4 linked regions of the Homo sapiens genome follow. The protein of the gene in region 2 purifies or fractionates together with the protein of the main gene of each other region. This does not show direct contact. Each region holds a gene or a part of one and is shown on either strand. Other genes may lie near its edges. The genes, in order: ADO, ZNF212, EPDR1 and NEIL3.

Region 1 (7,690 bases), on a different chromosome or scaffold from region 2:
TAGAAGGAGACAAGGAAAAGGGGGAATAAAAGGTGTGGATTTTGGAAGAAGTTCAGGGTTACTGGTGTTAAAAGCTCAGAAAACCCTCTCCTGTTGCCAAAACACATATTACTTAAAAAGCAGGCTACCACTTTCATTAATAAATAGCAGTTGGTGTAAATGCAACCCATTCAAATCAGGCTTAGTAAAAATCAATTCTCATAAAATAGTAAGTAGGTACACAATACTCTGCATTGATATAACTGGCCAGTGACAGAACCAGATACTTTAAAAGCTTCAGAAGCATTTAGACAGACAATTTCTCACCCATGAGGCAATTATTGCATTTATTATTCACCATAAAAGTGATTAATATCATTGTGCTCATTAGTCTTTCCAAGGGGAAGATAACTTTTATCCCACAGTTGTTATTAAAACATTATCTATATTGGACGGAGTATATAGAAACACAATAGCAACACACCAAGTCAGTCACGACTAACAGTTTATGCACACAGGTGCAAGATAGTTTCTGCACCACATTTTGTCTTTGTAATAAGCATATTCTTTCCTCAGTGGCTCACTAAAACAAGTTATATTTTGTCTTCACCACTAATTTACTCAGAATTTATTAGTGAACCAAAAGTTTCACTGTTCTTATTGAACTAAATCTGAGATATCATATTGCTGTTTTGGCCTGCAACAATTTCAGTTACTCTTTTGAAAAGCACCTTAGGTTTTTTCTTCCAAATTGCTCGTAATTGAAAACTTTAAAACTTCTTTTTTTCATAATGAAGTCATAATTCTTCCTTTATTACTATCCTACAGCCAGGATGAGTTTTCGTAGCTTTAATGTACTAAGTTGTATTATAACACATACATTGCTATTAATAATCTTGGTAAGCTAATCAACTTTTTGCTACAATATAATCCAAAAAAGTATGTGATTGATAACCACATTCATTACTGTGCTATGGAAAAAAAAACAAGATCTTTTATTTTGTGAAGTTTTCTAAGAAAATCATTTGCATATCTAGAATTTTATTTTCAAACTAAGTGGCATGAAGAACTGCTTCAAACTGCCCCCAAAGGCATTTTAAACTACACCAGAATGTGGAGCTACAATAAAACAATTTTAGCAACAATGCAGGAAATACTTGGTACTATGCCTGTGTCAGGTTTTATAATAAAGTGGCATGTCCTGTGGAATATCTTTTTGTGTTTTGTTTTGGTTTTATTTTTAAATCACTCACCAAGTATTTGCTTTTTTATACTATCTTAAAAACTGGGAACAAATACTCCCTCACCCTGGGTCTCTGTGTGCATAAAGAGGCAAAGGCACGTACTGTTTCTCTACATACGGGGTCAACATTCCACTAATAATAGCAAATCTCCCTTTATTATAGATATTAGAACTCTATTGCCACTTGGGCAAGTCAATCAAGAGGGCTTAGACGACAGCTGGGCAAATTTTAATGTGTTTATTTCTACAATTTCTTTTTATTAAAAGTCTTGTGAAAAAACGGAATCCTATAAATAGTAAAAAGGGAGAAACAGTGCTCCATGGCCTGAAGCAAATGGTGTCAATACATGTGTAAACAAGGTAAGACTGCTCGGACTATTAAAAGCACAAAAATAAAACTAGTCACAGATAGCAAGACTTCATTTCAGGAGTTGGGAGTGGGAAGTAGGAAGTGTTTAATCCCAAGTTTTGGTGCCCTAAAATGGCTAGTAGTATAGTTAATTCTCAATTCTCTAGCTGTGATCTTCTGTGCCTTCTATCTCTTCCTAAGGAAAACCACATTAGATGAACCCAGGGCTCAGTCATTTTAGGGAGAGGGTTGAGACAACACTGCCAGCAACACAGCTGGAATCACCCGAGTCGGGAACATTAAAGTTCCTGAGAGAATATGAAACAACTATCAACATAATATTTCTCCCTACTTTTACAGTAAAATATTGGAAGTAAATAAATATAGGGAATGCAACAACTGGCTAGGAGTGTTTTACATTCAGTTGTTTGGAAGCATAACACATTCAGCTCCTTTGAATCTTCCCGTTAGAAAATACAGAATTACTCTATCACCTTTTAAGGTACAGTAAGACAAGAAAAAAAGTCATGTGAGGATAATACAGTCTTTGCATTAAAGGTGAATCTGCAACATGAAATCTGCTCGACTCACAGATCTGGAGATTCATAGGGAAGATAAGCTCTAAGTGACCATGTCACAGAGATATGCAGGTGCTGAATTTCTTAGTAGATGCTGCCTGAGTAAACCAGATGTGGCTACTGGGCAAAGGGAGGAAAGAAAATAAATCTTGTCCTCTACATGCATAGTTATGTTGTGAGAATGATCCCCAAACTGAAAAAATCATTTAGTTTTCACAAGGAATTAATTAGGCAGGCCAGCTCACTTTAAACAGTAGCTCATCTCCTTAAACCTAGTTTTTACCAATGACTTGAACTAAAAACAATTCAAACCACTGGGTCATGCACAGTCAATAAGTTAAAAAACTATAAGAAAAAAAGGCATAAGGGCATGAGTGGAAAATAAACCCTATTTAACTAAGGGGTAGGGAGTGGGAGCAAGAAAACCACTTAGTATTTTGTATAGAATGGGGAAGAGAGGAAGATATTTTCATTATGGCTTTAGGATGGAAGCGCTTCAGATAGTCCCCTGCCCCATTCCTCCAAATCAAAGCCCCAGTGGCAGTGACAGTACCAGGAAACAATCTAGCCTCCCCGCCCACCCCGCCCCCATAACCGTGCCCGGCGGCTGCTGTCCAGTCGCCCGTGCTTCCCAAGGCTGCCGAGGAAGCGGCTGCTGCTCATTCCAGTAGATCCAACGCCCAGGCTAGGGGGTAGAGACACAGCCCTTGTGGTAGGGTAGGGCACGTCTTCGGCCCACCGCTCCTGGGCGCCAGTGGCTTCAAGGGAAGACCTTGGGACCTGGATAGGGTTCTCCCTCGCACCAGAAGTCATCGGCCTGTGGGGTCTCCAGGAGCCACACCTCTCGAGGCAGGTCACAGGCCGAGCTGGAGGCCTCCTTGGGCCTGACCGGCTCCAGCACCCGGTAATAGTGGCAGTCCCGGCCATCGTCCGGGTCGTAGGGCGGGGCCAGGATGTCCAGGAAGGCGGCAGGCCCTTCCACGGCGTCGATCTGGTGCAGGTTGTCCCGGTGCGGTGTGAGGATGCAGGGGCCGCTGGCCTCGGTGTACTCGGCCCGCGAACGCAGCACGCCCGGCCGCACGGCTTCTCGCTCCCGGGGCTGCAGCGGCGGCTCGAACTGCTGCTCGGGCGGCAAGGCCCGCGGCCGTTGCCCGCCGCCCGCGTCTAGCTTGTCCATGCAGCTGATGCGCACGGTGCCGTACAGCACCTTGAGCATGCCGTGCATGCCCGGGTGGTCGTGCAGCGGGATGGACGTGCCGCTCTTGAGCAGGAACACGCCCAGGCTGAAGCCGTCCGTCTCGTAGATGTGCATGTAGGTGACTGGCGGCAGGTTGGGCGGCAGCGGCTGCAGTGTGGCCTTGCGCGGGGCGATGTTCAAGTCCTCGGCGCGGAGCTGGGTCAGGAGGCTCTTCAGCTTGCTCAGGTTCTCGGGGAAGCCCGGCTGCATCGGCGCCTCCGGGCCAGAAGCCGCGTCGCGATCGGAAGCGCCGCGGCCGCCCCCGCTGCCCCGGAAGGTGAGGCAAGCCTGGCGGGCGATCCGTTGGATCAAGGAGGCCATGTTGTCTCGGGGCATGGTCGGCTGCTCCTCTGCGTGCCGGGACCGGCCCCCTCCTTTCCTCCGCCCCTTGCGGTCCCCGGCGGCCGCCACGGCTGCCCCCAGCCCGGGTCGAGGCGGGAGGCCCCGCAACCACCGGCCCGTCGGGCGCGCGGCACCGCCGCCAACCTCAGCAGCCACGCGCCCGCAACTGCCCGGCGCGCTCGCCTTGAGCCCCCTCTGAGCGCGCACGCGCACGCCCCACACCCCGCACTCACGCTCCGGGAGCAGATAGCGGCCGCGCAGACGGTGCCAGGCTTTGCCTTACGCCCGGCGCTCCATTCATGCGGCCCGCACCTACGACGGTGGCCGGGCGCCCGGGGACCCTGCGGAGCATGCCGGGACTTGTAGTCCGGCCTTCCGCTTGAGCTCTGAGATAGTTCAGTTTGTTGATTGGAAAATAGAGGAACTATTACACATGTTGGGCATAAAGCGATCTTTTTCAGGATGCAGAGGTGTTTTTCTTGTTTTAGAAAAGATGAATCGGGGTGGAAGATTAGTAGCCACTTGACTACAACTCCCGGCACTCCCCGCAGGGTGGAGTGACGCACTTCCGTCAGCTGGCCCCCGGAGTAGTGGAGGCTCTTGGCCTTCATAAGGAAAGGGGCAGGGAGGGTCGTTAACCTTCTGGCGCCGCGCTGGGGCCTGGTTAGCCATGCAGGGTCGCCTTCCTTTGGCCTTGCCCCTGGGAAGGAGGCTGTTGAGTCAGCCTTAGCTCCTCGTAGCGGCCTAGGCAGCACTGTCTCCCACGGGAATTGCAGGAGGGCGCTTTTATAATTTTGTGTTTCCTAGGAGGGGAGGGGGTCCAGGCCGTCCTCTGTGATCATCAAGGTTACTCGGCCCAGCTGGGCCCAGCTGGGCCCAGCTGTTGTTTGCATCAGGACCTGATGACGCTGCTCTTCTGGTTACAGAGCAGTATAGCTTTTTGCTGGAGAGACTTGAGAGGCCATTTACAGTGGTCGTGGATTCTGAACATACTAGTGGTTATCAAATCTTGGTTTGCCTGAGAAGGGGGAGCGGGCTTTTATAAATGCAGATTCCCTGTCGTCACCCAGAGATGGAGTTACTAGATGGTTCTGAGGCATCCTAGGAGAAATAGTGGTGTGCAACAGTCAGTTCAGTCAGTAATTGTGAAATTGTTTCACTACACAGAGGCATCCTTCTCCTTGGCGTGAACTAACTTTTGGCATAAGTAAATGACTAGAAAAGCAAGACATTAGATACTATGACTTTAAACTTAACCCTGAGTTTAAAGTCTTTTTGGATTCCAAAGCTGAACATGGGTTTCTTGTACATTTTGTAATTGGAGTGGTTCAGTGAATCCTCTCCAGTTAAAATAGGCATACTTTTTAAAGTGGATTACATAACCTGGCTAATGAGTACTCACAATATGCCAGGCACTGTGTTAAGTGCATTATATAATGAATGTTATACTATTTAATCCTTGCAGCAACTCTTAAGAGGCAGGCACTATTATTATTCCCAGATTGCAGATGAGGGAATAAGTTGTAGGATAGTGAATACTAAGTACCCAGCAAAGCATGAGCAGCAGAGCAGAAATAAGTACAGTCTTACCAAAAACAGCAGCTTGAATTGGTGTAAAAGCACCAAACGAGAGTCAGGATATTGTTGTTCCAGCCTACTGTGTGTACTTACAAGCTGTGTGTCGTTAGGCAAATCCTACCCTTTTAGGGCCTCAATTTATTCATTTGTAGAATGCCGGTGTTAAGGGAACAAAAGTTCTGAACCCTACTCATCAGAACCCCCTGGAGAGCTTAAAAAATAAAGATCTTGGGGTCACACCTCAGAGATTTTGATTCAGAAGAACTGGAGTGAAGCCTATTTTTTTGTGTGTGGTTTTTTTTTGTTTGTTTGTTTGTTTGTTTTGAGGGGTAACAAGGTTTATCGTGAAGAGCGAAATAACAAAGCTTCCACAGCTTGGAAGGGGACCACAGCGGGTTGCCCCTATGATTTATATTTAAGATGCTTCCTCAAGCAATTATTATTATTATTTTTTTTTTTGAGACGGAGTCTGGGTCTGTTGCCCAGGCGGGAGTGCACTGGTGCGATCTCGGCTCACTGCAAGCTCCGCCTCCCGGGTTCACGCCATTCTCCTGCCTCAGCCTCCGGAGTAGCTGGGACTACAGATGCCCGCCATCACACCCGCCTAATTTTTTTTTCTGTATATTTAGTAGAGACGGGGTTTCACCATGTTAGCCAGAATGGTCTCGATCTCCTGAGCTCGTGATCCGCCCCCCTCGGCCTCCCAAAGTGCTGGGATTACAGGCGTGAGCCACGGCGCTCGTCCAAGCGATTCTTGATCATTAGCTCAGTTTGAGAACCACTGGTAGAGCTGTAAATAGTGAACCAGCTTTCATTAGTTAAGAGGGTGGTTATTTGCTTTAGGAAAGGATTGTTAAGACTGATTCATTTTTAGAGGTTGCCATGCCATTGTTACGTTATTTAAATGTACTTTCAAAGCTGATAAATAAATTTCATACAGTCTTTTTTCTAAAGTGAGAAGTATTTGAGAGTAAAATTCTTCCCCTTCCTTTATTTACAAATATGGACTTTTATTTATTGGTTTTACTTCTATTAGGGTATAATTAGTGGTAAGTATAGACTCCATGGAACACAGACTATATTAACATGCAGATCTCTTGCACTTAATGGTTGTCCACACTTACTTAACTGAAGCTCAAAATTTTCATCTATAAAATGGGATAATATACCTGTGTAAATCACTGATGACACTATGTAGAACATAGTAGCTGCCCCATGACAGTAGCTATTATAGGTTTAAAATGGCTATAAGTTGTACTTAAAGACCAATGAATTTAAATAATACTAAGCAAGTATTGAAATGGAATTTGACTTGTTTTGAGAATCAGCTTCAGGGTAGAGATAAAAAAGATTATTGCTTAAACCATTTACCTGGTAATTTGCTAGTCATCCTTTGGCCTGAGTTCAAAGTTTCCGAAGACTGCCTGTATCAGAATCACTTGGGAGTGTCTGTCAAAAGTGCAGATTCCCAGATCACGTCAAAACCTACTGCATCTGAATCTTTTGCACATTAAAAATTTTAAGAACCAGGCAGGCATGGTATGGTGGCTCATGCCTGTAATCCCAACACTTTGGGAGGCCAAGACAGGAAGATCGCTTGAGGACAGGTGTTCAAGGCCAGCCTAGGCAACATAGCAAGACCCCCATCTTTACAAAAAAAAAAATTAAAAAATTAGTTGAGCATGGTGATACACGCCTGTAGTGTATTCTGGAGGCTGAGGCAGGAGGATTGATTGAGCTGATGAGTTCAAGGCTGCAGTTAGCTATGATTGCACCCCTTCACCCAGGCCTAGGCAACAGAGTGAGACTGTCTCTCAAAAAAAAGTTTGTAAGAACTGCTGAGTGTCTACAGGGCATGTGGTACTTTTTTAGGTCACAAAGAGTCTACCTCCATAATTCCTTTTGATGTTGCCCTTCATTCAGAGCTGCACTAATGGGTGATATTGACTCTATGGGCTTTTGCCCTTAAGAAGCAGTTTACTTGCCCTTCTGCCCCACTGCCAGTAGCATAGGCTGAGTGGGTTTCTATTAGCATTAACATCCTTCTTTTTTATCCTTGTTGATTCTGTAATTCTTCAGTGTTGTTATAAGCAAAATGGAGACCAAAAGAAATTCTGAAAGGGAACAGACAGGAAGAGAAGTGATAGTGAACAAATACTAGGAAAATGCATGGCAGAGACAAGGTTTAGGGAAAGTTTAGGATAGACAAAATCAATCGTTTGATAAACAGTCAGTATCCACTGAGTACCAGGCATTGTTCTAGGCTTTGGGGATTCAGCAAGGAACAAAGGAAGACAAAGTCCAAATTCCCAAGGAGTTTACCTGCGAGTAAATGTGTATGTTTGAGAGGATGGAAGCGTTATACAGCGCGAGTAAATGAGCAA
Region 2 (6,946 bases):
ACCTGGCACTTCAGCCGTGGGAAAGCTCACTCTAGGCTACAGAGGGCTATGGAAGGGGAACAGAATATTCCAGAGCCACTCACCTGGGTGGGCACCACCAGGACCTTCCTCTTCCAAGTCACCCAGCATCTCTGTACCCAACTCCGCTTCTCCCTCTGTCTGGCCAAGGACCTCTGGGTGGGAAACAGCACAGTGTGAGCCCAGGAGAGAGTGAAAGCTCACTGCACACTGATCAGCTGCCAGTGACCAAGATGACCAATGGCAGGGAGGAAATATAGATTCAAAGGCTACTGTTCTTGTCAGTTTCCCCTAGCAGTTTGGGACAATTATAAAATTCTGGCCAATCATAACAACTGACTTGGCTAGCTGCTGCCTCCAGTGCTCCTCCATTAGAGGGGCTGTGGCTCAGGCAGGCAGGCTACAGAGCTACCACTGCCCTTGATGGCACCACCACCCACCTCTGCCTCTCCATGTGCGTGCAGCTTAAGTCTTGCCAATGCTTCCTTTCAGGGGATCTAATTTCATCCTTGCTAAGGCACTGCAAGGTAAGATGGGCACTGGGACAGACAAGGAAACAGTCACAATGAGAGCATGTGACCCAACCAAGCTTACAAGGTCACTTTTCTGGCCCATTTTCTATTTCCTTTACCTCCTACTCTGCTCCAGGCACTTGACACTCCTCCATGTACCTAGGTTTTAAAAGACTTTGTCTACCAAACAAAACACATTTATTATGTAATAGGTAACATTTTGCATATAAAGACTTATATCTATTAAGCAGCACTCCTAATCAACAAGAAAAAATCACTGAGACCACAATGACCAGCTATAATTCCGGCCAAACACCAAGAAAATGCTTTTGATCAGCCTGTGCTGCCTGCCTCATCCAAGGTAACATAGGGTTATCAAATCATCTTTTTTTTTTTTTTTTTTTTTTAAGCAACAGAGATCTCACTATGTCGACCAGGCTGATTTCGAACTCCTAGCCTCAAGCTATCCTCCCACCTTGGCCTCCCAAAGTGTTGGGATTACAGATGTGAGCTACCACACCCATCTCAAATAGTCTTAAATATTAAAAACAGCATGAGAGGCCAGGTGCGGAGGCTCACGCCTGTAATCCCTGCACTTTGGGAGGCCGACGTGGGTGGATCACTTGAGCCCAGAAGTTCAAGACCAGCCTGGGCAACACAGTAAGACCCACGTCTCTACAAAAAATTTAAAAAATTAGCCAGGCGCAGTGGCATGTGCCTGTAATCCCAGCTACTCGGAAAACTGAGGTGGGAGAATCATTTGAGCCCAAGCTGTCAAGGCTGCAGTGAGCCGAGATCGTACCACTGCACTCCAGCCTAGGTGACAGAGTCTCAAAAAAAAAAAAAAAAAAAAAAAAGATAAAACAGGCCAGACGCAGTGGCTCACACCTGTAATCCTAGCACTTTGGGGGGCTGAGGTGGGCAGATCACGAGGTCAGGAGTTCAAGACCAGCTTGGCCAACATGGTGAAACCCCATTTCTACTAAAAATACAAAAATTAGCTGGGCGTGGTGGCAGTCACCTGTAATTTCAGCTACTCGAGAGGCTGAGGCAGGAGAATCGCTTGAACCTGTGAGGCAGAGGTTGCAGTGAGCCAAGATTGTGCCACTGCACTCCAGCCTGGGCAATAGAGCAAGACTCTGTCTCAAAGAAAAAAAGAAAAAAAAAAGATAAAATAAATTAAAAAACAACATGAGGAACCCTAGCCATATCACACTATAGGGTATATGACATTTTATTTATTAGAAAATACTATCAAGAACAGACTATGTGACCACAGGAAAAAAAAAAAAAAAACACAAAAGGCACAATGCTGCGAGCTTTCCAAAAGTCTCTGTAAATGGGAGGACCTAGAGACTGGCATTTCTCCACCCGTGCAGGTCTGTAAATGGGAGGACCTAGAGACTGGCATTTCTCTGCCCGTGCAGGCCGACAGAGGACCCACAGCCACAGGAGCCACAGGTGTGGTCTGAATTACAGGCTGCCAGCCAGGAATTGTAGTATGTCTGAGACAGAATTCTAGGGAGAAAACTGCTACTCACTCAGAGAGACCAGTGTCTCATAGTTACTCTCCATCACGTTTCTGTAGAGCTCCTTCTGCCAATCCTCCAGATTCTCCCATTCCTGCTCGGTGAAACAGACGCCATCATTCTCCAGTGACCTGGACACCTGGAATCACCAATGGCACACCATGAGTGCTTCTACTCACAGCTATGACAGAAAAGCCAGCAACTGAGGTGCTTACATATTAAAGGGCTGGCTCCCCCTTCTCTTCTAACTTTTAATCCTCAATGAGACTACCTTGGGGGCCTCCCCCTTGCTGCCCGGGGGCAGCCGCAGGATCCAGAAGTTCCTGTTGCGCAGCAGGTTCTCCACGTTCTCCAGCCGCCTCTGCAGTAGCCCATACTCCTGCAGCAGGGTCCCCAGCACGGCCCACTTGCCCTCCAGCTGGTTCCCGAACTCCACGGCCATCTTCTCGCAGTCAGCCAGCTTCTTCTCGGCTGTCCCCGTGCGCCCCTCCAGGCTCTGTAGCCGGGCAGCCTGGGACTCCATCTTCTTCTCCACAGCCTGAATAGCGGCCACCACCGTCCAGAGTGAAATCTCGGTGGTCTGAAAATAGGAGCTTTTCTCTGTTGCTTGTGAAGGAAGTGTGGAAGAAGTTAAAGGTGTGGAGCGTCGTTTTCTCCTGTGCTGATGGATTAAAGACACAGGGTCAATGTCACTTCCAAACATCAAGTAAAGAAAGCAGTGTTCAAGTGTATCAGTGCTCAGAGTTATCTAGTTTCTTTTAATTAAAAAAAAGCATGTCTTTTATTGATACTAAAAATTATACATAGATATTGTATTAATAATGTTGGAAAATGATGAAGAATAGAAAGAAAATATTACACAAAATCTTCTCACACACAATAAGCTGTTAGGGCTGGCCGTGGTGGCTCACAACTGTAATCCCAGCACTTTGGGAGGCCAAGGCAGCTGAATCACTTTAGCTCAGGAGTTTGACACCAGCCTGGCCAACAAGGCAAACCCTGTCTCTACAAAAAAGTTCAAAAAATTAGCCAGGCATGGTGATGCATGCCTGTAGTCCCAGGTACTTGGGGCACTGAGGTGGGAGGACGGTTTGAGCCCAGGAGGTTGAGGCTACAGTGAGCCAAGATCGTGCCAGTGCACTCCAGCCTGAGTAACAGAGTGAGACCCTGTCTCAAAAAAGAAAAAGAAAGAAAGAAGCTGTTTGAATTTTGGTGTATTTCTAAAGTTTTTTTTCATCTTTTAGTTTATTTTTTTTCAACAAAAGTGAAATTATAGCGTGTATGTTCTGTTACCTATGCTTTATGCTTAGCATATTCTCTGAGACTCCTGTATCAGTGTTCATTTTTAAACCTATTTTTATTTAATGTTTTGGACTATATGATAAAAGATGTCACTTACATCTTATCTTGCTTCCACATCCCTGCCAGACTTCATAGTTGATCATGTCACCCGTTTGAAAACTTTCAATGGCTCCCCACAATAAAGACAAAATTCCTTAGCAGGACCTACAAGACCTAATTCATTCATCTTTGCACTCTAGCAGCTGGGATGGTGAATAAATCCTTAAAAAATATTTACTGAAATGATGTGACTAAGTCTACTGACATTTTCCTTATAATTTTCACTTTAATGAGCTGTCTCTGACAGTAGGAAAATCACTGTCATAGAAGCTAAAATTACTGAAACCAACACTGGGGAAGTCTTCCCCAAGCTGTCCCCCTACTGTCTCCCTGCACGTTCACTTCAGTCCTAACCCCCTCTGCAAACTTCACTTTATTTGAATAAAGCACACACTTTATTCAAGGCTGCTTCTCTAACCACAGTGAGGCCACCAAGACCGAGACACTAGAGGAAATATCTCGGAAAGAACTGCTGGGGCCAAGGGTTGTGGTCCAGAGAACATGGGACAAAAGGAAACTGACTGGTGCAGAACTGAACATTTAAGTTTGGCCATGACCTACTCTAGTTACTCAAGTCAGTTAATTCATCATGGAACACATGAGACAAAAGCTTAAATACATCCTCCTGCAAGAGATTAAAAGAAAAGTTCAATGTAAAAGACAAATACAAGCGAAACAAAACAAAATATTAAACTGGATATATGCATGCCATCATGTTTGTTTTGCTTCTACTTTAAGTCTGTGAGTCTCCTCTTTCTGTGGCCCAGCATTCTGTGCTCAGTAGCACTTTTTCTAGACAGGAATGTAGGTGAGAATCTGTGCAAAGGAATAAGCCCCCTCCTCTTCCACATAGTAAGAGGTTGAAAAGAATGATTAAGCTAGTTTCTTCTTGTCTTCTGTTTTGAATTATCTAGCATGATGGGAACAATTCAAATGTTCACGAACCAGTCAATGGATGAAAAAATTGTGATCCATCCAGTGTTATGGGTTGAATTGTGTCTCCTCAAAATAATACAGTAAAACCCTAATCCTCAGTACCTCAGGATGTGATCTTACTTGGAAATAAGGTACTTCCAAGGGTAATCAGGTTAAAATGAGGTCATTAGGATGGGCCTTAATCCAATGACTGATGTCCTTAAAACAGAGGACCTTTAGACGCAGACACACACACACACAGGGAGAAGATGTCTACTATGGTTTGTCCTCACCAAAACCCATGTTGAAATTGTATTTCCAATGTGGCAGTGTCGGGAGGTGAAGTCTCGTGGGAGGTGTTTGGGTCATGAGGGCATATCCCTCATAAATAAATTAATGCGCTCCCACAGGGGTGAGCTGTCATTGGCAGGAATGGATTAGTTCCCACTACAGTGGGTTGTGAAACAGTCTGACTTCTTTGGTCTCTCTCTTGCCTCCTCTGTCACCATGTGATCTCTACACACACCTGCTGCCCTTCCATTTTCTGCCATGAGTTTAAGCAGCTTGAAGCCCTCACTAGACACAGCTGCCCAATCTTGAACTTTCCAGCCACCAGAATTGTGAGCCAACTAAACCTCTTTTCTTCATGAATTACCCAGCCTCATGTATTCTGTTACACCAATACATAATGGGCCATGTCAAGATTAAGGCAGAGACTGGACTTATGCTGCCACAAACCAAGAAAACACATGGGACCACCAGAAGCTAGGAGAGAAACACAAAACTCATAAGGAACCAACCCTGCAAACATCTTGATTTCAGACTCCTAACCTCCAGAACTGTGAGACAGAATTTCTGTTATTTAAGCTTCCCAGTTTGTTACACCAGCCCTAGGAAACAGACACACTATATAAGACACTTCATTATATACCGTATTATATATTTAGTGTATTTTTCCTATATAGCTTAGAAGACTACTAAGCCTGCTACTTAGTAGTAGACTACTACTTCGACTACTAAGTCTACTACTATGTAATAAAAAGGAACCAAAATCACTGACATGTTTAACAACATGCTAAGTGACGGGAATCAGACAAAGGTCAGGCACGGTGGCTCATACCTATAATCCCAACACTTTGGGAGGCTAAGATGGATCACTTGAGCCCAGGAGTTCAAGATCAGCCTGGGCAACAAAGCAAGACCCCCACCTCCACAATTTTTTTAAAATGAGCCAGACGTGGTGGCATGTGCCTATAGTCCCAGCTACTTGGGAGGCTGAGGATGGGAGGATCACTTGAGCCCTGGAGTTCAAGGTTGCAGTGAACCATGATCACACTACTGCACTCCAGCCTGAGTGACAAAGTAAGACCACTTAAAAAAAAAAAAAAGAAGGGCCGGGCATGGTGGCTCACACCTAAAATCCCAGCACTTTGGGAGGCCGAGGCGGGCGGATCACCTGAGGTTGGGAGTTCGAGACCAGCCTGACCAACATGGAGAAACCCCATCTCTACTAAAAATACAAAATGAGCCGGGCATGGTGGCGCATGCCTGTAATACCAGCTACTCGGGAGGCTGAGGCAGGAGAATCACTTAAACCTGAGAGGCGGAGGTTGCGGTGAACCGAGATCACACCATTGTACTCCAGCCTGGGCAACAAGAGCAAAACTCCAAAAAAAAAAAAAAAAAAAAAGAATTCAGACACAAAAGGCTACATTTGTGTTTCATTTACATGTTTGGAAAAAAGCAAACTATAGGGACAGAAATCAGATCAGTGGTTGCCAAGGGCTAGGGATAGGAGAAAAATATTGATTATAGGCCAGGCACAGTGGCTCACACCTATAACCCCAGCACTTTGGGAGGCCGAGGAGGGCGGATTGATCATGAGGTCAGGAGATCAAGACCATCCTGGCTAACATGGTGAAACCCCATCTCTACTAAAAATACAAAAACAAAATTAGCCAGGTGTGGTGGCAGGTGCCTGTAGTCCCAGCTACTTGGGAGGTTGAGGCGAGAGAATGGTGTGAACCCAGCAGGCGGAGCCTGCAGTGAGCTGAGATCACGTCACTGCACTCCAGCCTGGGCAACAGAATAAGACTCCGTCTCAAAAAAAAAAAAAAAGACTGATTATAAAGGGATATGAGGGAACTTTCTTGGATGATGGAAATATTCTCTATCTTGGTAATATGCTGGCTACACATTTGTCAAAATTTGTTGAACTATCTGCCTAAAGAGTAAATTTTACTGTATGTAAATGGTATCTCAATAAACACGTCTTAGAATGTCAAAGTAGGAGAAAATGCTAGCTGTAATAAAAGATAACATAAACAAAGTCTAAAAACAAGGAGAGAATATTTGTAAACAGAATATGAAGTGGAAAAAGGTCAAGAACCCCAAAATAAAACTGCAGATTGTAAATCATTCATGGAAGCGGAAATGCAGGCAGTCAATAAACAAATGAAAACACAACCACCTTACAATCAGGAATCCAAATATAACTAAGTGAAAGCACGTTCACCCATCAGACTGACAAACATGAAACAGACACAAAGAATAACATTCAGAGCTGACTAT
Region 3 (7,218 bases), about 110 Mb from region 2:
AGACACAGCAACAACCATACAAAACCCCTGGCCTTACGGAGCCTTATTGTGCATGAGGGAAGGTGGGGGAGATGAAGGAACAAACTTTAACGTTAAACACTCTGCCAGATAGTCATAAGTGCCTTGGATATATTAATATAAAGCAGTGAGGGGGCACTGAGAATGTTGAGCAGAGAAACAGTTCAATTTGGGAGTAAGTCATGCAGCTTCTTAGGAAAAAGTCTTTCTAGGCAGAGGGAATGACAGATTCAAGTGCCAATGGGGTCAGCGTGCTGAGGCCAGGTCCACAATGAGTGAGCTGGTGACAGAGATAAGGTAGGGAAAAGGCTGGGGAGCAGATCCTGAGCCAAGAAGTGGCATGACGTATTTTCAAGAGAACCCCTGGGGTTTCTATGTGGAGAACAGACTAAAGGGAGCAAGGTCCGAAGTGGGGACAACTGTTAGGAGGCTATCATAAACATCCAGCCGAGACATAATAAAAGTTTGGGCCAGAATAACAGTAGAGGTATGGTCAGATTCAGTATATATCAAAATTAGGGTATAGGTAGGAACATAAAGAGATGAGAGCCTGAGCCCTGGGAGAGTCCACTATTAGCAGTCCAGAGAAGAGCAGAAAGAGCAAAAAGGCTTGAGGAGAGGAAATAAGGTGGGAGAAGGAAAACCAGAAGACTAGCATGTTGAAAGCCAAGTGAAGACAGTGCATCAAGATTGGGGAATTAATCTACAATAAGATGAGGACTGATCAAAGATTGGTTGATTAGTAATGTAGAGCTTCTTGCTTTTGACCAGAGTATTTTCAATAGAATGGTGACAAAAGTGATTGGAGGGTGTTCAAGAGAGCATGGGAGTACAAAAATTGTAGTTAGCATGAGATTTGCTTTAAATAGAAGAGGAGAATGAGATTTCAGCTGGTAAGATCAAGAGAAGTTTTTTTTTTTTATTTAAAGATGGGTAAAATAAAAGAAAATGTTAAGGGGGAAAATAGAAATTTTTTACTGGAATTGGTGAAATCTAAGACTATCATATTTATTCCAGGAAAAACAAACCACTAATTGGTGGAATATTTTCAGATCTTTGGGCACTTTGCCCCTGACCACCATCCTCAAGGTCAGAATCAGGAAGAAACAGCTCAAGGTTATTGGAGAAAGTAAAGATGTTTTCAAAGCAGTATAGTGACCACCTCTGGCTTCCATTCGTAAATTTGTCTTACATTCCATCAGCCTCCTTACTCTCCTGGGCTTATCTTCTTTGGATCTTTTTTCCCCAGTGCCTGCTTCTCCCTCCCCATCTCAGCATTAATTGTCTGAAATCCAGGGTCTATAGACACACTGAATTAAGTCCCTTAAATCAAACTTTGTGTGCTTCCAAGAAAATCTGTTTCTTGAAGAAAAACTCAAATATTGCGAAACTCAAGTATTGCAAATCAGTATGGTTTATTCTTTGAGGATCAGGAGGCCACAAGCAGTCAAGACTTCCTCAGCTCACAAAAGAATATGCTATCTCCAGCCATCTGAGACCAAAATGATGGAGTAAAGGTCAAAGGAGAAGTCATGCTCTTAATATTCACAAAGTCGTGATTTCTTAAAATGAAAATCCAATCCATGCAAGACAAGATTCATGATCAAATAGATTTATTGAGCACTTTATATTAGTCTGCCTCCCCCAGTCACACAGAAACACCCTCTGAGGATTTGTAATGATGACATACTGAGAATCCAAAAGCAATACAAACATATGTTAAGAACATAATTTCATCTACTCCTTTCTCTTGAACAATTTAGACTAAAGCCACTAGGTAGGACCAAGGAAGATAGGCTTCTACATGGGCTGGCCTGGAGCGCAGAGCCCATGTGTGAAGGAGACAGCGTAATGATACATGACTGGTTACCTACTGCAATTGAATAGTAAGCCAGTTTTCTCACTGGCTGAGAAGGGAGTAGCAAAAATGAAAGGAAAAAAAAAACTAGAATGAACCATGTAGTGTTGGATTAGAATGAAGGCATCAGTTTAAACACCTGTATGGATTAGAACTGGAGGTTCAGAAATAAATATAGATGTAAATGTGTATATATGTATGAGTGTGTGTGGGGAGGGATGTGTGTATTCAAACTTAACACCCCTTGCTTTGTCCATTGAGAGGACCTGGTAGCAGTGCCACCTGATAGCACTGAGCATGACCAGAGCACAGGTTCTAACTTCCACATATTATTCTCCAGGAAAAGTAACCAGGGCTTCTTGAAAAATGGTTTATCCTAGGACTGGGGCAGGAAAAGTATAGATGATCTTGAAATATCTTGCTGTGCCGGAAAGCAAGGAAGTGCCCAAACACATCAAAAGAACATAGAAACCAATTTGAAGAGGCTTCCACTGGCCAAATCTAGGACATTATGAACAGCAAAGTAAACAACGAGAGCAAATAGAACAAAATTAGAAGGCTTGAGTCCACACTGATACAAATAAAGTATAATTCAGAAGATTAATGAAGAATGGGATATGTACATGGTTTTAAAATATTTCCCTACCAAATCTTACTAATTAAAAAGAAAAAATGTATCATTTCACAGTGAAGAAGGCTGGCAGACAACAGTCAATCAGGTGATCAAAGTGAACATCAGGATGCAATTGGAACAGAGTATTATCCCTGATATTCCTGCCAAAGGTAAGTAACTTGAATCTAATTATGAGGAAACATCAGACAAACCCAAATCAAGGAACATTCTACAAAATAACTGGCCTGCAATCTTTAAAAGCACTAAAGTGCAAGGAAGACTTAGGAACTATTCCAGACAGAAAGAGACCACAGAGACACCACACTTAAGTGTAATGCTTGCATTTAAATCTTTTTTTTTTTTTTTTTTTTGCTATGAAGAACATACAAAGAACAACTGGCAAAACATGAATGACACCTGAATTTCAGATGGTCAAAATGAACTGGTGTTAATCTCCTGACTTTTATGGTTGTATTGTGGTTATGCAGGAGAATGTCCTTGCTGGGAGGAAATACACTGAAGCATTTGGGGATCGTGGGTATATCAGTTTGGCAACTTACTATCAAACAGTTCAGGCGAGGGGGAAGCTCTTTGTATTATAATTGCAACTTTTCTGTAGGTGTGAGATTGTTTCAAAATAAAACAAAATTATGTATTTGAAAAATAATCCTCATCCTCCTTTCCAAACACATAAGATTACTGAAGTTACCTTAGGTGATAGCAGCCCTGGGAATTAATCATCCACAGCTGATACTTGGACCAACACCCCTATAAGCAACACTATTCCATTCTTAGTAGGAAGGGAGGCTCAGTTGAGTGCAGAGCCTTCTGAGTTTGGGCCCGAGGCATTTCAAGGTAGCCTCTTCTCTTTTTCTACTCATAAGCACAGGCTTAGATGAAAAAGAGAAGGAAGAAAAAGAACTTTGAATTAATTTGTCTACACAATGGGACAGATTGAGAAAAAATTTAAAATCTGTGTCAAGTTCATTGCATTAGAAACAGTGAATCAGCCTGATATAATAAAAGTACAATTGGTGCCTTCAGGATATCATTTAATACTATCTGTACCTAGCATTTAACAAATGAAAGCCTAAAAGTGATTTAGTATCAACATTGTAGGCATCATTCAAATTAAATTAAAAGATGAAAAACACAGAGGTTCTGCAATGTTGAGGACCTTATTGGGGTGAAGGCAGGATTAGAAGCCATGGTTGTCACTCCATCATGGTCTAACATGAATGCCCCTGCTCTCTCCACTACAGGAGGCTGATTCTCTGTTTAAAAAAGAGGTTAATGCTATTCTCTTCTCCAAGAAATAATATGCTCTGGGAGAATCAAGAGAAGCAGACATGAATTAATCAGAATTTGAATAAGAATCCACCTGCTGCCCCATTTGTGACATATTTTTCATGTTTTACAAATACAAATCCTTAATAGAACATGTACGACTGGTGATGAAATAATATTCCAAGATACCAGACTGTGCATATTGTTTTACTGCCTCTCTGCTCACTCTGCATTAAGAGCTTCATTGATTCCAACACCCAAGCCACCATTTTGTAAGGGGGAGCCTATAGTTACTGGTGGCCTGAGAGGGTTCATTGTGTATCAACGCTGCTTCCCCTATAAAGTTCAACATGCTGCCTGAAATATGAAAATCATCTTCTTGATTTCCTTCAGTCTTTCAAATAAATACTTGTGAATTTAATCAAGGAGTCAGAAAAGACAGTTGGAATTAGAAAATAAAATGGTATCAATTACTAATATTTCCCATTTGCTGCTCAGGCTTGTCTTATCTGAAGCTTGTAAAGTTGTTTAATCTTTTCCATCATCTCAGGGAAAACAGAGCCTGGAAAATCCTAGTCATTCCACAGTAACTATCAATGGGATTTTCCATAACTATCTGGATGCAAAATGAAAATCTTAAGAAGTTGATCCAATTCTAAAACTTACTTCTCAACTTACTCATAAATATGAAGAGACAACTCATCCATATTTTCTTCAAATAACATCTGGTTGCTTGGCCAGACTGTTAATACCTGAAAAAGTTTCTGAGTTTGTTCCAACAAATCTACACTTAAAGAGCTTAAAAATGTGTTTATGCATTAAACATTCTTTTCCACATCTGACTTAGGGCCAGCGATGTGACTGTCAGAAAGAACCTTGCCAAGAACTCGGAAAGAAAGGGAAAACAATGTCTTTTAGAAGTTTAACTGTGAAACCAGCACCTATTGGATTAGGGCAGAGGAATGAGAAATCACCGCAAAGGGACAAAAATGCTTCTAAGCCAGCAAGAGTTGGCTGTGACTCCACTAAAGGTATAAAACACACATCTAAAGGCTATATTAGTCAGTCATGGAGTCATGGAAGAAGGGTTGCTCAGACAGACTTGAGCAGTACTCACCAAGGGTCCATTCTGAGTGGAAGGGGTCAGGAACAGCACAGTTGGGGTAGCACAGAACCACCACCAAGTCATCTCTATTGTGAAAATCAATGCATCACTTTGCCTTTGCCTGATTACCATTAAACCTTACCCCAGGCTGGCCTGTCTTATTCATGATGGAAAACTCCACATTGAGCATACAGCCTAACCTAGGGCAGGCAATCATTAGATGTTTGCTCAATGAATTTGCTCCAACTCTTTGCTCACAACTGCCTGATGATAATTTGGCTCCCCACATAGTTCTGACTACAGGGAGAGAATGACCTAGTCTGGTGGATTTGAGAATGCTGGTCCTCATGCCAGCAATAAGACTCATTGAAGTAGACAGGTTTAGCATTTGAGTTTCCTTACTCGAAGGTTGTTCCCAAAGGAAGGGTCTGTGTGTGCTGCTGTATCAAGTTTCTGAGCCCAAAGGGCTGGCAGCAAGTCTCTGGGCTATGGTAACTTTACCAGGATAATGATGATAGTGGTAGCGATGGGACCAACCTTGGCCATGAACAGAGCATCTTGTGCGTACTATCAGACATTGTACTGTATGTTTTATACACTTGAGCTCATTTAATTCCCATAATAATCCAATAAATTAGGCATTATAAGTATTCACATTTTGTAAATGAGGATACTGAGACTCAGAAAGCTTTATTAACTTACCCAAAGACCCATATTCAGAGTCTGGATTCAGATCCAGATTTGTCTGACTCTAAAGTCTAATTTTTTTAATTGTAAAAAAAAAAATACTACCTTTGGAGAGATGAACCCTTATCCTTCTCTTTGACACACTCCTCTGCTTCAGCAGTGTGCTCTCGGCCATCCCAGTCCATCTTCAATATGACTATTCATCAATGCGCCACTACTGTACAAGTCTTCACATAAAATTACATAGGATACCAATGCACCCTTAATTAGAAGTGCACAAAGTCAAGCCCTGTTGCAAGGAACAGCATCACCATCTACCCTATGCCATCAGTACCATTAGCTTCACAAGCCAAAAATGGGGGCCTCTTTAACGTTTTCCTCTCCCTCACCACGCCTGCCACAACCCGTCCAATCATGTACATTTTCCTCAGTTGAACCTCTTCAATACTTCCCTAATGCATTCACTTGCCCCCTGTTCACCATTTCCATCGCTACTACCCATCTCTCACCTGGACCACTACGACAATCTCCAAGATTGTGTTCTCACTTCCACTTTTGCTCCACATGGCTCCATTTTGTGTCCACATCTTGGGAATGCATTCTTAAGGACACATCCAGGGATCTTTATATAATCTAATCACAAATTCCACTGTTTAAAACTCCTCAGTATGACCCTTCGCCATGTCCTGGGCTTCAGCCCTAATAGTGAGTGGTCTGTGGTTTTTGGAATTTACTCAGCTCTAAAAACTCCGGGATGGCACACACATACCAGGCATGGATACACCTGCATCCCCCTGGACCAGCAGTCTCTCCACATCTCCCTGGAAAACCTGTACAGGTGTTTTGGAACTCACTCTCATTTCAGCTCCTCCAGGAAGCCTGGGTTAGGTGCCCAACTGAGTTCTTCTCATCACAACCCCAGCTCTCACCCCTCATCCCACTGTATGGAAATTTTTTTTATTTATGTGACTTCACCTCCAGACTCTGACCTCCCTGAAAGCCAGGAGCCATTCTGTTTATACACAGTGCCTAACATGAACAAATGCTTGTTAAATAAATGAATGAATGTGAACCTGGTATACCATAGGCGTCAGAACCCCCCCCTAGCTTCCTCAAGCATTAGCTGTGTGATCTTAAGAAAGTTGCTTAATCTCCCTAGACCTCAGAGTTATTGTCTGTAAAATGGAGATCATAAAACCTATACTGTCAAGTTATTGTGAGATTTAAACTAAATTATATAATAGATGTAAAGTCCTCAGTGTCATGCCTCATATATAATAAGTATGCAACTGTTAGTTGTTATTATTATTACTGTGCCCTTCAAGACCCTACTGAAAACATTCATGTTCTTGAAAGACTTCGAATCAATTCCCAGTCCACCATGATGACTGTGCTGCTCTGTGCTGCATTTCATAATGCATTATTTTGCACCCTTGATATTGTTTGAAAGGGTCTGCCCTTTCCGTACTTTCTTCAAGTCGCCTAATACTTGAACAAATGCTTTTAGAATAAATGATATTATCAAGTTTGGTTTTGTTCTATAAACTAATGGTGCCCTTTTGCTATAGATCTTACAGTCCATTGGCGTTTCAAACCATGGAAATTCACTTTGCAACTCCTAATGATGCAAATGCCATAAAGAGAGGCCAG
Region 4 (7,759 bases), on a different chromosome or scaffold from region 2:
TCAGCCTCCCGAGTAGCTGGGACTACAGGCGTCCACCAAGCTAATTTTTTGTATTTTTAGTAGATACGGGGTTTCACTGTGTTAGCCAGAATGGTCTCAATCTCCTGACCTCGTGATCTGCCCGCCTCAGCCTCCCAAAGTGCTGGAATTACAGGTGTGAGCCACCGCGCCCGGCCTACAACAACACTTTTTAATCAGAGATCTCTTAAATACCAATCGAAGTCATCAAAGAATATAATTTTAAAGTGATTTCTAAACAACAAAATAGAGGTCCTCAGGCCCATTCATCAAAAACATATTCTACAATTTTCTAAGTGCAGGACCTTCAAGCACTTACTCAGACTAAAGACTTTGTACCTTATCTGAAGGCACCAAATGATTACAAACCCTTCATAAAAATAGGGTGTTCCTCAGATAAATGGGTCTGGTGAGAAAGCTCTGATCCAGAAGAAAAAGGAACAATTCCCAGGATGTTTATTTTGCTAGGTACTAAGCTAAGAATTTTACATGCTGCTTAATTTAATCCTGACCAAATAAGCTAAGATGCAACAATAAGCATCTCCAGACGAGGAAGTAACAAAAAAATGGGAATTCAAAATCAAGATGATCAGATGCTCTCTTCTCTGCAGCATGCCGAATATGTTCATCTTGGATAAAAAGCTACAATGGCCATGGAAAATCACCTCCCCTTTTTCCTCCTTTGTAAGAATGTTTCTGTTCTTTGTTATCCCTTGTTTCATGATTCCATAGGATTCTGGATACCAATAATGATGATCTTGAGTCATTAAGGATAAATCATTATTAGTATCCATTTAAGAAGGTAAGGAAGTATATAATGCATGTTCTCTAAATTATTTAGAAATCCCCTTCAGATGCTTAAAGAAATGAGCCTCATTTTGCTGGAAAATGAATCTCTGTAGATTAGCTCATTTCTTTAAATAATGGCAATAAAATGAGCCACGATTTTTTTCCCCCACTTTGAAGAAGGAAAATTTACTACCTGGTTTATATTCTGGTAGTAGGAATTTCCATATAACATGCACAACAAAATATACACATTCTCATAATGAAAGAGTCCAAATGGAATTTATTTCTAAATCTTTAATCACTTTGCACTATTCAAAACCTTGTTCTTCTCCATCCATTCAACTTTTATTAAATGTCTCCTCAGTTCCTGACACTGTGAAGCATATATAACGATAAATAGCTGGCATATTAAATACATGTATCAAATTTTAAGGAGTGATGGAAATAATCAGACCATGTTTCAAATAAAATGAATGCTTATAAACTGTTTCATATCCTGTTTTGTGAGATTGAAAACACATGCAGATTAAATATGATTTCACTAAAATATTGTATCCACCCAACAATTAAAATCAAAGGATTGACTCTTCAAAGCTCATTAACCAGATATGTTCATTTATATTCCAATATTGTTTCTTACCATAAGTTTCCACAATCTCCAGCAGAGTTTTATGCAATTTGCTTATACTGTTGCACAATTTTATGCTGACAAGACAGTGGATCACGACTCAGAAAAATAATATAGTACATCCATGACTAGCAGATGCTGGGATCTTCTATGGCTAGGTTTTCTCAAAATGAGGATCAGTTGTCACAGGCAGACATGCATTCAAGTGTGTTCTCTATAAACTTTATACTGTAACAAAGAGGAATGCTATATGACACAGTAACAGTCCATTATGGCAATAACTACTGAAGTAGTGTTTTTTGGTTTGTTTTTTGGTATGATTATCTGAGGTTTAAATATTTTATTTTGAATGCCCATTAAATATTTCTTTAGCTCTCATTAGTAACTTTTTCCATGTTTACTGCACTGTAAAGAATGCAGTATGCAGTTATTAAATTATTTTTAAATGCTGCCTTGTGAAAACTAATCATTTCAAGCCAGTAGCAGAAACATTTAAATAGCTTTAACTCTTTGGCATAAATGCCTAGGAGACATGGGATCATCTGCTACAGTAATGATCTTGCCAGAGGTTTGTGACAACCTACCATGTTTTAATGAAATTTACTATGGATCCCTCTAAAATGCAAAAGACTCTTCATGTTTACAAAAGGTTATAATTATGTTTTTTTTTTCAGATCAAAGTCCCAGAAAATGAAGCCATAGTAAATTATTTAGAAATTTACCAACAGCCTCAAAGAATGTATTCCTTCCATATTGATTTTAAAATCCAGTGTCCATAGAACCAGATTCCTGATACTAACCACAAAGACCTATTCCAATTTTTAATGCCTCTTTCTATCAAGGTATCAAAAATAATACCTTTAAATGCCAGGCTTTTTATGTGTGGGGTATAACTTATTGAATATTGCTGCCAAGTGATGTTAATAATTGCCTAACCATTACTGACGCATTTGTATTATATTATCAGGCTGCACTCTTTTGTGCAATCCAAACATGGCCATAGAAGCTGTTAGAAGAGAATTATCAGAATAGATATAAGAGAATTGACTCAACCGAACAAAACTAAAAATGGTGGTAGACACAGCCAAAAATCCAAGATTGCACTTTTCTATTTAATAAATAACCACTACTATATACTGAGCATTATGGTGTTCTTACCGTTGTATGCTAAAAAAGCAATAAAGATCCTACTGAATCTTTTATGGCTGAGAGGAGCTATGGCATGGTTAAGAGGGTAGGCTTTGGAGTTTTAAAGAAAAATCAAACCCTGGTTTAGCCCCTTACTAGACATGTGATCTTGGGCAAATTTACTTAAAGTCACTCTGAGCCTCATATGCCTCATCTGTAGAATCAGGTTAATCCTTTATCATAGGGTTATCCTTTTTCATGACTGAATGAAATGTAAAAGCATCTCATGCCATACCATCAGAGATAATCACAACAAAACTTAAAAGGAAATGTTTAAGCTATTTTTCCTAAATACCAATGAGGTGATATTTATTTAAAACATTAGGTTGGACTCTCACAGCAGAAAGCATATCCTACTCATCTTCGTATCCGCAGGAGCTAGCATAAAACCTAACACAAAATACGTTGTGGTTGAATGATGTAAATGATGATATCCCTAAGTATATTCATGTCATATCCATTGCTTAGCCCTCCCATCATAGTGATTCTCTTGTCTTCATCTCCACCACCAGCACTTGACCCCAAATTTGTCACCTGGATTTCTGCAGTCGACTCCTAAATGAGAGGGCAGTGTCTACTCTGGCTTTCTTTCAGTCTTTTTCCTGTTCCAATCCCTGAGCTGCATGGCTTCTACTCACCCTGCACACCTCAGCTTTTTTTTTTTTTTTTTTTTTGAGACAGAGTTTCGCTCTTGTTGCCCAGGCTGGGGTGCAATAACGCGACCTCAGCTCACTGCAACCTCCACCTCCTGGATTCAAGCGATTCTCCTGCCTCAGCCTCCTGAGTAGCTGGGATTACAGGCATGCACCAGCATGCCTGACTAATTTTTTATTTTTGTAGGGATGGAATTTCTCCATATTGGTCAGGCTGGTGTTGAACTCCCAACCTCAGGCGATCTGCCCACCTCAGCATCCCAAAGTGCTGGGATTACAGGCATGAGCCACTGCACCCGGCCCACACCTCAGCTTTGCTACTTCCCTGGGGAAGCCTTCCCAGGTCTTCCTACAAGTCCTTAAAGAATCGTGTATCTCTCCTTCACAGAACTTATTAATTTATATTTCTTTAGGTGATTATTTAATGAATGTCTTTGTGTCTTCCCAACTGAAGTATAGGCTCCAAAAGAGGAAGTATTTGTTTTTGCTCCCCAGGTGTCTTGAGTATTCAAAATTTTATTGAATGAGTAATTTTCATAAATATTAATATTCTTAAGAAACCATCTAAAATCCATCTCTGTGGTACCCTGAAACGATTTTAGAAACACTATAACAATAATAAAAAAAAATAGGTACAGAGTACTTACTGGCATATCAAGTCAAAATAAACAAAAGGGCAATTGGAAGGAGATGTAAAACTTATTTTTTCCCAAGTTTGAAAATATATTTTCTTAGACTTAGAACCTCATTTCTTTCAAGTTGTAAGCATATGCTAATTTCATAGCAGGCAACTTTTTCTTCCAGGACCAAAGGCTATAAGAAGCTTTGCAGAAGAAATTGAAATACAGTGCAATATTGCATGTAGGCATGAAATACAATCATCCATACATCTAGAGGGCTTTTAAAACATGATGCCTTAATCAGAATATTTTTAGTACAAGTTCTGGCCAAATGAATACCACATCGTCTGCAATGAATGCCTGAGTGGCAAGAAGCTGTGCTAGTTTACTTTAAAAAGAAATAAATTCACTTAAGGGAACCAGAACTGGGTTTCATTGCCCCTTAATTAGATGGCAATATGAAGTTGAGTGAGAAGTTAGTGCTAAATTTTCTACGTGTAGTTTTAGAATTATATACTAGTTGTGATATACTTACCAATTGCAGATTAGCCAAGCAAGAAAGTAGAATTTTATGCTAAAAGCTTAAAATGGGACGAAGAAAACATATCAGAGGTAGCAGAGATTTGATAATATCAATAGTAAAAAATGCAGCTGTAGACATGGGAAACCATGTGTGTATCATAAAGAAGTTAAGTAAGGTGACTCGGATAAAACACCTTCACTGGATTCCCCTAGGGCATCTTGCTCCGGCAGCGTGAGCCCAGAACGCTAGCCCTCCTCTCCTGCGCAGGCGCGCTAGGACCGACTTCTCCCTACAGTAAAGTGACGATAAACTCTGTGAAAGGTGGGACCCCAGGAAACCTGGGCCAGAGCAAAGAGATGACACTTTAAATCCTGGAACCCTGATGGGGTCTTTATTCCATTTCCCCCCTGCTGACTGCATGGCCTGTTACAGGAGTAGCTCACCTGCGGGGAGACCACAACCGTGGAGGCTGCGAGCCGCAAGGCGCGGCCCTGCAGACTCCGCAGAGCGCTTCCCCGCACGCCGGTCACCGCCTGGCCCGGGAGCACCCGCGCGCGAATCTTCTCTCCATTCAGAGTACAGCCTGGTCCTTCCACCATCTCTGTGGCCGGCACTGTGGCCCACCGATTGCAGGGCCTGGTGAGAATACCGCTGTGCAACTCAACGCTGCGCGGGCACTGACCGCACGCAGAGGAAATTCAAATCTCGCGCGCGTCTGGCCCCGCCCAGGCCCCGCCCAAACAGCACCCTAGCTGTTGAGGTCGCTCCCTACGGCGCATGCGCTGTGGTTCACCCCCGCCCTAGGTCTTGCTGTGGGTTTATTAAGAAAACGCAAACGCGCGTGGGGCGGGGGGCGTGGAGGACAACTAACTAGGCTGAACTGTAAAAGCAGAAGAAATTGGGACTTGGAAAGCTCTGAATGTATTTTCTTTGCGTTAAAGTTTTGCCCTTGTCTTTGAGCTACTTAGTATACACACATTTTCTGATCTGGTCCTCTTAATCTGTCCTTGTCTGTGACAGGACAGATATGTCACAGACAATCTTGTTTTTGGCTCTGTTTTTGGCATGCTATATTCGGACGTGGGTGGGATAAGAGAAACGAAGAAGAGGGTTTTTGGAACAAACAGCAGAATATATTCTAGTGTCTATATTTAAAAACTCCATTATTAGATAGTTAAGTGAGCCCTACCTAAGTGCATGCATCCATTTTGTAAGGGGACGCCCCAAGATGAAAGCTATATGAAATTGCTTTGTTAAACGTAGAGGTTTATATAAATTTGAGGGTAATGCGTAGCTTTTCAAATTTACCCACAACCCTAACCAAAGATGCATGCATACATATAAATCTATGAAGTTTATGACTCCATATAGTTTTGTAAATTATAAAGTGTATTCTTTTTTGAAAACTGAAATACTACACATTAAAACAGAATGTCAATTTCTAAGTGATTTCATAAGCATAGCACTGTGCTGCCGTTAAACCACAAGAGCATATACACAGGTGGTTGCTGACTTAGGATGCCCCAGCGTAACAGTGTTTTGACTGTATGATGGTGCAAAAGTGACACACAGTAGAAACTGTACTTTGAGTACTCATATAGCCATTCTGTTTTTCATTTTCAGTACAGTAGTCAATAAATTATTCAACACTTTATTATAAAATATGCTTTGTGTTAGGTGATTTTTCCCAACTGTAGGCTAATGTAAGTGTTCTGAACACATTTAAGGAGGGCCTCGTGAAGCTATGATGTTTGGTAGGTTAGATATATTAAAGGCATTTTCGACTTACTGTATTTTCAGTTTACAACGGGTTTATCAGGACATAACCCCATCGTAAGTTGAGGAGCATCTGTATACTAGAGAGTTGAATTTGAATATACTGAAGACTTGATTGAAATTTTGAAAAGTATTAAATCTTTCCTTTGCAGGGAGAGATTAGTGATCAAAAGTTGGCTGGATCAATTTCAGGACTATTTGTACTTTACTCCCTTGTTCAATTCAATAATCTCTGTCCTTTGATGGAGAAAAGTCCTATATACCTTCTCCTCTTTCAGCGTTGTACTAGTTATTTATTGTTACCTCATCAATTATCCCATTTGTTATTTCAAAGTTTCTGTGGGTCAGGAATTTGGCAATAGTCTAGCTAGCCAGAGTCATCCTGGCTCAGCATTTCTCAAGAGGTTACAGTTAAAATATTAGCCAAGGCTAAAGTGCCCCAAAGGCTTTTTGTAGCTAAAAGATCCACTTCCGAGATGAGTCACTTGCATGGCTGTTGGCAGGAGGCCTCAGTTTCTCACCTCTTGTGTCTCTATAGTGCAGCTCGGCTCTTCTAATGACATGGCAGCTGAGAGTGTGATCCAAGAGAGAAGTCAAGGAGAAAGCTGCAATGCCCTTTATTACTTAGTCACCCTTTATTACTTAGTTTACTATGGTAACTTACTTCTTATTCCATTCATTAGAAGCCAGTCATTAAATACAGTGCATTCACAAGGGGAGGGGAATTAAGCTGTGATTTGAAAGGAGGGATATCAAAGAGCTTGTGGACAAATTTAAAAAATATCAACCTGTTCATTTATCTGATTCACCTCATTTCTCTTTAAGGTGTTGTGTACTGTGCACATTTGGGTCAAATACGATCTTTAATTAGTAAGAGTTGGGGACTGACACTGAAGGCATTAAGAGATTTCACTGGCGTGACTGAAAGGCGGAGTCAGATTTTGTTTTGTTTTGTTGGCTGGAGTGCAGTGGCCTGACCTTGGCTCACTGCAACCTCCACCTCCTGGGTTCAAGCAATTCTCTTGCCTCAGCCTCCGATGTAGCTGGGATTACAGGCACCTACCACCACGCCTGGCTAATTTTTGTATTTTTAGTAAAGACGGGGTTTCACCATGTTGGCCAGACTGGTTTTGAACTCCTGACTTCAAGGGATCCACCCGCCTTGCCTCCCAAAGTGCTGGGATTACAGGCATGAGCCACTGCACCTGGCCCAGATTTTGTTTATATGTGACTAGCCTCTGAGTCCTTTGGTATATCTCTTTGATCTTGCTTCTTACGTCCAATCAAAAGCAAACTCGCATACGCTGTGTATCTACATTGTCTGTAAAAAGAGCCCACAACATTGCAAGCAAGCCTACCCTAGTGCAGACCCTTGCTACATTTCAGCTGGACTATGTCAGGATCCTGCTAACTGCTATCCTCCTTGAATTTTCTCTTGTGCACTCTTACCAGAGGAACCTTCACAATTTCTTCTTAAGTCCAATTTACTAATTTCAGTAAATTTGCTAAATCTATTAAATTGTGCTATTTGATAACCATATATATATATGTCATTTATCTTTTC

Evidence for each region.
Region 1: the proteins of ZNF212 (region 2) and ADO purify together in Homo sapiens (affinity purification with mass spectrometry; 2 studies listed by BioGRID and IntAct, with this or other methods). This does not show direct contact.
Region 3: the proteins of ZNF212 (region 2) and EPDR1 purify together in Homo sapiens (affinity purification with mass spectrometry; 2 studies listed by BioGRID and IntAct, with this or other methods). This does not show direct contact.
Region 4: the proteins of ZNF212 (region 2) and NEIL3 purify together in Homo sapiens (affinity purification with western blotting, with the first as the bait; one study listed by BioGRID). This does not show direct contact.

What each region holds. Positions count from the first base shown.
Region 1 is NC_000010.11:62,801,092-62,808,781, reverse strand, and holds ADO (2-aminoethanethiol dioxygenase), read right to left. Parts: upstream 4,063-7,690; 5' UTR 3,723-4,062; coding exon 2,910-3,722; 3' UTR 303-2,909; downstream 1-302. UniProt on the Homo sapiens protein: Plays a vital role in regulating thiol metabolism and preserving oxygen homeostasis by oxidizing the sulfur of cysteamine and N-terminal cysteine-containing proteins to their corresponding sulfinic acids using O2 as a cosubstrate.
Region 2 is NC_000007.14:149,245,933-149,252,878, reverse strand, and holds part of ZNF212 (zinc finger protein 212), read right to left. Parts: intron 2,721-6,946; coding exon 2,331-2,720; intron 2,199-2,330; coding exon 2,072-2,198; intron 174-2,071; coding exon 84-173; intron 1-83.
Region 3 is NC_000007.14:37,922,121-37,929,338, reverse strand, and holds part of EPDR1 (mammalian ependymin-related protein 1 isoform 1 precursor), read right to left. Parts: intron 1-7,218. UniProt on the Homo sapiens protein: Binds anionic lipids and gangliosides at acidic pH.
Region 4 is NC_000004.12:177,307,213-177,314,971, reverse strand, and holds the start of NEIL3 (endonuclease 8-like 3), read right to left. Parts: upstream 5,099-7,759; 5' UTR 5,019-5,098; coding exon 4,863-5,018; intron 1-4,862. UniProt on the Homo sapiens protein: DNA glycosylase which prefers single-stranded DNA (ssDNA), or partially ssDNA structures such as bubble and fork structures, to double-stranded DNA (dsDNA).